Homo sapiens: one gene and its partners. The gene in region 1 interacts genetically with each later gene. Each region holds a gene or a part of one and is shown in the gene's direction. Other genes may lie near its edges. The genes, in order: PMPCB, GATB and PITRM1.

Region 1 (3,656 bases):
AAGTTGAAACCAATTTACAAGAAGTTGTTTTTGATTATCTTCATGCCACAGCTTATCAAAATACTGCACTTGGACGGACAATTTTGGGACCAACTGAAAATATCAAGTAGGTATAACAGAATTTCTTGGTGTATAAGGGAATTTATGAATGTTGAAAATAAACATTTACAAATTTTCAAAAAGTATGTTTCAGAAAGTAATTTTCCCCCTGGTAATCTAAGTGAAACTGTAGTTAGCTACATTTTAGTCCCACCTAGCTCCCAAGCACGTGAGTTCATAGGTACTTCGGGAATAAACCAGTAATGGTGTATTTTTTCTTTGATGTAAAAAAGGTGAAGTTCTTTGATGTGTTGCCTGTATCCTATTTCTGACTGCATTTTAGGATACAGTTATGGTCCAATTTGATTTCAGGTATATTATGTGAAGATCTGTTTTTTTTTTGGTTTCCTTTAAAAATTGTTTTACTTCATTTACAGATCTATAAGTCGTAAGGACTTAGTGGATTATATAACCACACATTATAAGGGGCCAAGAATAGTGCTTGCTGCTGCTGGAGGTTAGTCAATTTAAATTTCTACAAATGTTTTAAACACAGTTGTTGGAGTGGTATGCTTATTAGTTTGATCCTGTTGGGAGATACCCTAAGAATTTTCATTTACATAGCAAATAACTGATAGTGTGTAAGGGGAATGTGGAGCACTGGAATCAGAATTTCCCTCTATTTTTTTTAAAGTAGGTTTCATTTAGGCCAGGCATGGTGACTCACACCTGTAATCCCAGCACTTTGGGAGGCCGAGGTGGGCGGATCACGAGGTCAGGAGTTCAAGACCAGCCTGACTAATATGGTGAAACCCCATGTCTACTAAAAATACAAAGTAGCTGGGCGTGGTGACATGCGCCTGTAGTCCCAGCTACTCGGGAGGCTGAGGTAGGAGAATTGCTTGAACCCAGGAGGCGGAGGTTACAGTGAGCCAAGATTGCACCACTGCACTCCAGCGTGGGCGACAGAGTGAGACTGTCTCAAAAAAAAAAAAGAAAAGTAGGTTTTATTTATAGAAAGACTTAATGAACTGTTCAATACATAAGCGTACATAGTAGAACGTGCAAGAAAAGGGCAAAGGAGTGAACTGGGAGAGAGTCGGAAGATGGTGTTCTGTACTTTGAGAATTTTTTGAGATTTTAAATTATTTCTTGAGAACCAACTTCGTCCTTGTTCAAGCATGGAACGGGTATGTTCATTCTTTGATTTGTTCAATCATTCATTTAATAGATCTAATTTTTGGGAAGGAGAAGCACATAGGGAGCCATAAGAATGTTGAATGGGAATCCAAACATGCAGGTGACTTCAGAAGGTTTCCTTGAGGTCATGTTTGAAGCCAGTGAATGAAAAAAAAAATTGACAACAGATATTGCCAGATTTCCTGGCAGTCTGAATCTAGACAGCAGTACATTTTAATTGGTTTCCAGTTTTTTATTTTTTTCTTTTTAAAATACATTTATAGAAATAGAGATGGATTCTTAACTATGTTGCCCAGGCTGGTTTCAATCTCCTGAGCTCAAGTTATCCTTCCACCTTGACCTCCCAAAACTTGGGGATTACAGGCGTGACCCACCGCACCTGGTCTCCAGTTTTCATTTCTTTGTATTTTTTAATATTAGAGCAAAGCGAAGTGTTCTTTCGTGTTGTAAATTTTTCTCTTTTTAGAGATCATAATTTAAAAATTCTAGTTGCTCTGGATTGATTTCTGAGCTAAGTACCTGGCGGGTAATGGAGAAGATGAAAACATTAAATATCAAACATGTTATTCATTGTAGCTACCTTCATTGTACATGGCAGGAAGTGCACTCTGAAATTCTCTTGAGTAACATTGTTTCTAAATTGGCTCTTGCAGACTTGGGCTTAAGTGTTTGAAACTGCCTTGGAAATGGGACAAGAGACTTGTTAGATGGGTCCTCAACAACCAAGCTTTCTGGGACCTCTCTGCCATTGTTGGTGGCATGTGGACAAAATGAGTTTTACTTTGGTTCATGGGTTCATTTTGACATAGCTAAAATTGAGATATCTTTAGTTTAATGGCTTATAGATTAATTAGTATTCATTTTAAATACTACATAAGTGATGTGCCTTATAAATGATTGCATCTTAAATTCAATGAAATAGGCCAGTTTTAAGTTTCTGCTGACCTCTGAATTATGTCTTGGCTACCATTTATCTCTTCTAGGCTAATCATCAGGATGTATAGCTTTTATTTGCCAAATAGTTTTTTGTATCCTAGCTTCATTTATTATAAAATTATAATTTAACATTTTAATTGTAAATTAAGTTAAAGAATCTTAATTTGGGTCTCAAGTAAGGGATATAGAGTCTAAGTAATTCCTGAGTTTTTGCATTTGGATACCTATTGATGTATTCAGAAATTTAGATGACACTATTTTGTTCCTGAGTTCTTTTTTTTTTTTTTTTTGAGATGGAGTTTTGCTCTTATTGCCCAGGCTGGAGTACAATGGCATCATCTTGGCTCACCGCAAACTCCGCCTTCCGGATTCAACTGATTGTCTTGCCTTAGCCTCCCGAGTAGCTGGGATTACAGGCATTTGCCATCACACCTGACTAATTTTGTATTTTTAGTAGGGATGGGGTTTCTCCATGTTGATCAGGCTGGTCTACCTCTACCTCTGACCTCAGGTGATCCGCCTGCCTCAGCCTCCGAAAGTGTTGGGATTACAGGCGTGAGCCACCACACCAGGCCCTGTTCCTGAGTTCTGATAGCAGAGCATGGAGAATAAAGTTTATCTGTGTATCCAGCTTTCTTTTATTTATTTAATTTTATTTATTTTAGAGACAGAGTCTTGCTCTGTCACCCAAGTTGGAGTGCAGTGGTGTGATCTCAGCTCACTGCAAACTCCACCTCCTAGATTCAAGCAGTTCTCCTGCCTCAGCCTCCTGAATAGCTGGGATTATTACAGGCGCCTGCTACCATGCCCAGCTAATTTTTGTATTTTTAGTAGAGACAGGGTTTTACCATATTGGCCAGGCTGGTCTTGAACTCCTGATCTCAAGTGACCTGCCCACCTTGACTTCCCAAAGTGCCGGGATTACAGGTGTGAGCCATGGCACCCGGCTTTTAAAATTTATTTTATTGAGACAGAGTCTTGCTATGTTGTCCAGGCTGGTCTTGAACTCCTGAACTCAAATGATCCTCCCACCTCAGCCTCCTAAAGAACTGGGATTATAGGCGTGAGCCACCATGCCCAGCTCCAGCTTTTTAAAAATTAGATAGAGCCCATATTTGTATTTTCCACTAAAAAATTTTTTTTTTGAAAATTGGCATTTTTTGCTAGTTTGGATCCCAGAGGTTTTTATAATTTAATAGAAAATGATTTTGTAAAACGTGGAGTTTTCAAGTTGTCTTATTCTTAGCTGTGAATCCATTGGTCTGTTGATGAAAACTGTCATTTGCTCTACAAAATGAGAAAGCTGTGCAACCTCAAGCTTTGCAACACCAAGGAAATAGGTGTGCTATGTGAGCTTACTCTTAAATAATGGCTTTTAGTGAGTGTAGATAGTTCATGTGTAATGTACATCACATTATACCACCTAGGGTTTATTGTAAACTATATTGCTGCTAGATACATGTGAAAATATTTTCTTTCAA
Region 2 (3,656 bases), on another chromosome or scaffold:
GTGTGCTGCGTGAGTACCAAAAATTACTGCCTTCTTTCCAAACGAGAGCTGCTATGGCTAACCCTGAGATCCTTTGTAGTCATTTAATTACAGAGAAATTCTGGAACATACTTTCTTCAAGCCAAGTTAGTCTTTTTAGTTTTTAAATTACATCTTGATCGTATCACACACAATCAGTTGTCACTTCAGGGCACTTCCAGAAACAAGTTTGCAGGCCAGCATGTGGCAGGTAACACCTTAGAGGAGACTGGGGCATCACTGCCTCTCTGAAATCGTCCATTGATATCATCCCCTCCCTCCTCCTTTGAGCTCAGCACACATTAATCAAATACCACAATTTTTCAGGTTCTGTATTAGGCTCCAGGGATACAAGGGTGAACAGACAATTCCCGTCCTCATGAAATGTGCAATTGTGTGGAACTACATGTGAACAAATTCAATCCACTGTGATGGAAGCCCCAATGGGAGTGTGTAGAAGGTCAGAAGAGGTACACAGAAAGGACAACAAGGAAGGCTTCACAGAAGTGGTGACGTCCCACTAGGATTTTGAAGGGAATAAGAATGGGGAGAATCAGAAGATCAGCACGGTTTGCACAGAGGAACTACAGCAGAGGTGTTGTGGGGGGACATGGTGGTAGATGAAATTGAAGATGTAGGCAGGAGTTTGATCATGTAAGAGCTTGGCCTTTGTCGTGGGAACATCAGGGGCCATTGAGGGACTTCAGGTAACAGAATGCCACAGATCCACAATTTTAGCAGGATCACCCTAGTATGAAAGACAAACTTGAAAAGGGTTTGCAGATGCTGGCAGGTTCATGTCACCACTGCGGATTCATTGAGGGCAGAGACAGAGTCCTATTTATCTATGTACCCCTAAAGTTTAGTGCTTTATAGACATTTAAGAATTTTTTTTTTCAGAGTGAAGACAGCCCAAGTTGAATTTTCCCATTCTGTATCCTATCCTCAGAACATGCTGACCTGGACTTCCATCTGTCACAAGCAGCTTGACTAAGATCCTAGGAAATTCCTTTTTTTCTTGGCATTCTTCTAACTGACACTCTCTGTTTACTGGGCCCTCTGTGCATCTGTAACGTGTGATGACTGATGCTTATAATTCTGACCTTGAAGTACTTCATGGCTTCTAAATCATCAAAAAAAGATTAAAGCATATTCTCAGTATCACTGTAATGTTTGTGTGTTTTACTGCCTTCTTCTCTGGAAAGTGGTGGTTTATGAAGTGCCCGTGCGCTTGTGTGCACACGGACACAGTGAGAGTCTGTGATGGTCCTCAACTCTTCTCCCACAGGGAGGCTATGGTGCGTGCTTGAAAATAAACAAACAAAATAACCTGGGTTCTCTTCATGCCTAGCAGGAGGAAGCAGCTTGGTCCCAGGGGCAAAGAAGCTTGAAATGAGAGCGAAAGCAGTGGTTAGGAAAGCAGAGGGAATGATGAGGCAGAACTGGTGCAGACCAGGAGTCAGGCAGTTTACGAGCCAGCCCTGGCTGACTGCATTCTGACCCCAGGAAGAGCAAAGCCCAGGGTCGGGACTGCAGCTTCATGTTCTGTGTGCCTGGACCCGAATCATCAGGCTTGGATTTGGCGGGATTCTCCACCAGCTATGTTTGTATCTCAGTAACAACCGCTCAGTAAAATGCCAGACATTAGGCAAGTGAAAACATCAATAATTAGAGCCTCCTGTTCCCCACACATCTTTTCTTGAAAACCTTTATTGCTGCAGAGCTGACATTATTAGGCACAGAATGAAGAACTCCAAATAGAAACTGTGAAATGGCTCCATCTTATAACCTGAGTCCTGAAAAATAAGGGTGTGATGTTGTCACTAGGCGGGAGATTTGTTTAGGTTTTCTTTTTTTCTTTTCTTTTTCCTTTTTTTTGAGATGGAGTCTCGCTCTGTCGCCCAGGCTGGAGTGCAGTGGCGAGATCTCGGCTCACTGCAACCTCCACCTCCCGGGTTCAAGTGATTCTCCTGCCTCAGCCTCCCAAGTAACTGGGACTACAGGTGCCTGCCATCACACCTAGCTAATTTTTTGTATTTTTAGTAGAGACGGGGTTTCACTGTGTTAGCCAGGATGGTCTCGATCTCCTGACCTCGTGATATACCCGCCTTGGCTTCCCAAAGTGCTGGGATTACAGGCATGAGCCACCACGCCTGGCCCTTGTTTGGGTTTTCTTTGGGGACCGTATATTGCAGTAAATAGAAATGCCCCTTCCATTTTGTTGTAGAAATTTGTTTTTAAAATCTGTGTTTGGTCTACACTCGTCATCCCAGCCTAAAGAGCCAGTCCCTGAACCACAGAAGTTCTGTTTGCCGCCTCTCAGCCACGGCATGTGTGGGCTTTACAGGCAGCTTTACCACTTGCCAGTTCTGTGAATTTGGGCAAATGTTTTAGACTCTTTGGGTCTTAGTTTTGTTTTTTTAATCTGAAATATTGGAATAATGCAGATTCCTTATTTTACAGCGTTGCTGTGAGGCTGAAATAAAATGGTGGATGTGGAAATGCTCAACTAGAAGGCCCTATCTATATCAATAATAGTATATTAAATATACTAAAGAACATCATAAATATCCTAACAAAAATAGAAATATATTTCATCTGCAAACATGACATCCTCCAAAATTGTCCCAAAGTAGAGTAGGGAAATGAACTATTTATTGAATCTCTACCTTAGGGGAGGTGTTCCAGCTATCACTTTATCTGTTCTGCAAAGTAGATCTTAAATCCCACTTTTAGACACAAGGAAACTGAGACTCCTAGTCACAGCAGAAGTGGGATTTGAACCTGACTCGAGAACTTAATGCTCCTTCTCCTTGGCTACATTATCTCGTTGTCTAGTTCCAGACCCCCAGTGTTCTTAAAAGCTTTGACATTCTTTGGTGCTGGGAAGTGTGCCAGCCATTTCTTGGTCATTCACTCCTGTAAGTGGGACAGGGTGGCACCCAGAGGGAACTGGAGCACCAGGTGCCCCCAGAGAGACCAGCAGCACGGAGTCGTCCAGTGTGTGGGACAGGCCCTCCGTTGGCGTTCCACTTTTAGGGAGTTGGCCTGGCATGGACAGAAAGCCAGGCAACAGCTGTGCCACATTTCCTAGCCCTTGAGAAAATGGCTACGGCCCTGTCGTTTTCAGAAGTTCATTCTTTTTCTGTCAAAGTGAAGCCACCCTTCCTCAGGACTCCTCTCAGCAATCAGTGCCTCTTGTGTATTCTGACCGGCCCCTTATTCTGTTTGTAGAGGGAGTGAGATTAGATTTATTCTATGTAGTAACCACTCCGCTAAGCTTTTCTGCGACTCTTCCTGTTAGCTTTGATGCCGGGCACTGGGGGAAAGGGTTCCCGATGTGGCAGTTCCTTAAGTGCCCGGTGGGACCCACTGCTGCATACATTTTCTTCTTTATATCCTTCCCTGATTCCCAGGCAAACAGACTCGGCTTGTGAACTGGAGCTGCCCACCCAGAGAACCAGAGATAATGCCTGTTGAAGGGCCAAGTTGCATATTCAGCGAGGATGTCAGTGTGTGGGAGAAGCATTTGTTCAGCCTGCGGTTCTGAGAGGAACTGTGTGTTGTGTTCCCATAGGTTCTCAACAGGAGGTGTGTAGAAGCGGCGGTGATGACAGGCCTGGCTCTGAACTGCCACA
Region 3 (2,434 bases), on another chromosome or scaffold:
CTTGCTGTGCTGGAAGCCATGCTTCTAGACAAGGATGGGGAAGCAGCTCACAGCCGCCCCTCTGCAGCTCAGGGTGAAGGGAGGGCTGGGCTCTTTGCATTTACACGAAGGGAAGTCTGGATTGGCCCCCTCAGGCTGATTCCTGTACTACCCTGGGTGTGTCTTCAGGGAGATGAAAGGAAAACCTTTGTTTGCTTAATTTTTCCATGTAAGTCTTTGTAATTTCCCTGTAATCCTGACCTGCCCCTACCCTCCACTGACTTTCCTCTCCTGATGAGGTCACAGAGAAGTGTATTTAAATAATCTAGGGAGGACTTTGTGCAGACAGACCTTGTCTAAGAGGGAGAACATGTTGAAAGGCTTATGTGATCAGATTTAAATTTCCATTGAGAGTAATTGAGCGATTTGTCAGTGGGCTGTTTGGACTAAATCAGATATAAAATAGAGCTGTTAACCCATAGAAGATGTTGAACTGTTAAGTCGACAGAGGTTTGTCATAAACTTGTCCACTGGTAAAATGCTTGCCCGTTTATTTCTCTGGGTTTCCTAGGGACCCAAATACAATAGAGACGCTCCAGTCTTTTGGGAAGGCTGTCGACTGGGCTAAGTCTGGAAAATTCACACAGCAAGACATCGACGAAGCCAAACTTTCTGTCTTCTCAACCGTAGATGCTCCTGTCGCTCCTTCAGACAAAGGTATTTTGAGTATAACAGTGAGAATCTCAACCCACAGCCTCACAGATGACGTTGCTGTTTTCCAAGTTCCCGGCATGCATGGGCAGGAGCACTAGCTTCTGGTGCCTCCATCCTTGCTTGTGATACGATTTCCACGTCTGACACCCTAAACACGCTTCCTGACATCCGGGCGAGAAGAGTGCATCCTGTCATTTGTTTTACTGACCTGAGACCCAGTGGGGCCAACCCATGGCAGTGTCCGGGCTCTTTAGGGTGGAAGGAGGACGTGGGCACGGCCCGGGCATGGCCACGTTACTCTCTGGAGCCGCTTTTGCTCACAGCATCATCAGCCTCACGCGGCGCTGACTGCATCCCTGCTGCAGAAGCAGGCGTGGGTAGGGGTCAGCGTGGCACGTGGGAGCTGGAGGTCGGGGTGTGATCTCTGGGTTGTTAGACACATCCCTGTGGTTGAAACATGCACGTGAAATGACAGTGAGATGCCTGTGTCCCCTCCGGGACATGAGTGCACAGCCCACAACGCGAGCTCCCGGGCAGCGGCTCCATCGTGCCTGTGGATTGTCTTCTAGGAATGGACCACTTCTTGTACGGCCTCTCGGATGAGATGAAGCAGGCCCACAGAGAGCAGCTCTTTGCTGTCAGCCACGACAAGCTCCTGGCCGTGAGCGATAGGTGAGTGGGGAGCGGGGGAGACAGCGTCTGGGACTGGAAGCCCTCGTGCTGACTCTAACAGCGCTCACGCAGAAGCCAGTCCTTGCTGACCACGCCTGCCTTCCTCTCAGATACCTCGGCACTGGGAAGAGCACACACGGCCTGGCCATCCTCGGACCCGAGAACCCGAAAATTGCCAAGGACCCATCCTGGATCATCCAATGAGCAGCCGTGGCGCTCGACTGCACAGGAGCCCGAGACAATACACCTCCGAGCTGAATATGAAAAGTCAGAAATGCTACTGCTTTTTCCAAGAATATTATGTCATTGAGTGTCGCCAAAGCCCTTGACTGGCGAGTCAAAAACTCAGATCTATCTTAAGAGTGACCAGGAAGAGGTTCATTGAAATAATCATGCATGAAGCGCCAAAGATGCACCATGTAGAATTTTCACTTTGTACTGGCAGGCTCGTTTTACCTCATTCTAGAATATTTAAGAATCTAAAAATAAAGGGCAACTCTGACTTAACCTCTGCTTGAGTCATTATTTTAAGCAGCATTTAGGGCCTTTATTTAAAAACAGAAGTAAAATGAAAAGGTGCACAAGGGTGTCCCACGTCTGCCTGCGCTGATTCAGGAAACTCCATCACACCGAGGCCCTGGGGGAGTGTCCACCAGACGGGAGTTCACCGCGGCGGCTGCATGGAAACCGTCCTGAGAAGCAAGTGGGTTGGGGTGAGTAAGCGCTTGCTTCATCGTTACAGAGCCAGAAAGGAAAGCCTCCGCGCTAGCTCTTTCTTGGCTGTCGGACTCTGATTTCCCAAACAGAGTTTGTTTTTGGCCTCTCCTCTCCCTCCACCCAGCTCTCTGCCCCCATTTCTGAGGCGCAGCTGTTCTCTCTTGCAGACTAGAGCTAAGAGGCAGAAACGCTGTCCCTACAGGAGGGGGGCCCACCAGGGCAGCAGGGCTGTCATCCCAGCAGCCGTGTCTACTCTGGCAGGAGTCTTCCGGAGAGTTCCAACCTAGGTCCCAGCGAGGACTGTGGCTTGGCCTGGAGGAGAAGCTGGCTATCAGATTTTTGAACCCACCTC

Evidence for each region.
Region 2: changes in PMPCB (region 1) and GATB together harm fitness more than expected from each alone (negative genetic interaction), as found in Homo sapiens cells (one large-scale study listed by BioGRID).
Region 3: changes in PMPCB (region 1) and PITRM1 together harm fitness more than expected from each alone (negative genetic interaction), as found in Homo sapiens cells (one large-scale study listed by BioGRID).

Annotation. Positions count from the first base shown.
Region 1 is NC_000007.14:103,303,935-103,307,590, forward strand, and holds part of PMPCB (mitochondrial-processing peptidase subunit beta isoform 1 precursor), read left to right. Parts: coding exon 1-106; intron 107-476; coding exon 477-556; intron 557-3,656. UniProt on the Homo sapiens protein: Catalytic subunit of the essential mitochondrial processing protease (MPP), which cleaves the mitochondrial sequence off newly imported precursors proteins. Preferentially, cleaves after an arginine at position P2.
Region 2 is NC_000004.12:151,719,478-151,723,133, reverse strand, and holds part of GATB (glutamyl-tRNA(Gln) amidotransferase subunit B, mitochondrial isoform 1 precursor), read left to right. Parts: intron 1-3,595; coding exon 3,596-3,656. UniProt on the Homo sapiens protein: Allows the formation of correctly charged Gln-tRNA(Gln) through the transamidation of misacylated Glu-tRNA(Gln) in the mitochondria. The reaction takes place in the presence of glutamine and ATP through an activated gamma-phospho-Glu-tRNA(Gln).
Region 3 is NC_000010.11:3,137,166-3,139,599, reverse strand, and holds the end of PITRM1 (presequence protease, mitochondrial isoform 2 precursor), read left to right. Parts: intron 1-550; coding exon 551-696; intron 697-1,262; coding exon 1,263-1,365; intron 1,366-1,475; coding exon 1,476-1,569; 3' UTR 1,570-1,872; downstream 1,873-2,434. UniProt on the Homo sapiens protein: Metalloendopeptidase of the mitochondrial matrix that functions in peptide cleavage and degradation rather than in protein processing. Has an ATP-independent activity. Specifically cleaves peptides in the range of 5 to 65 residues.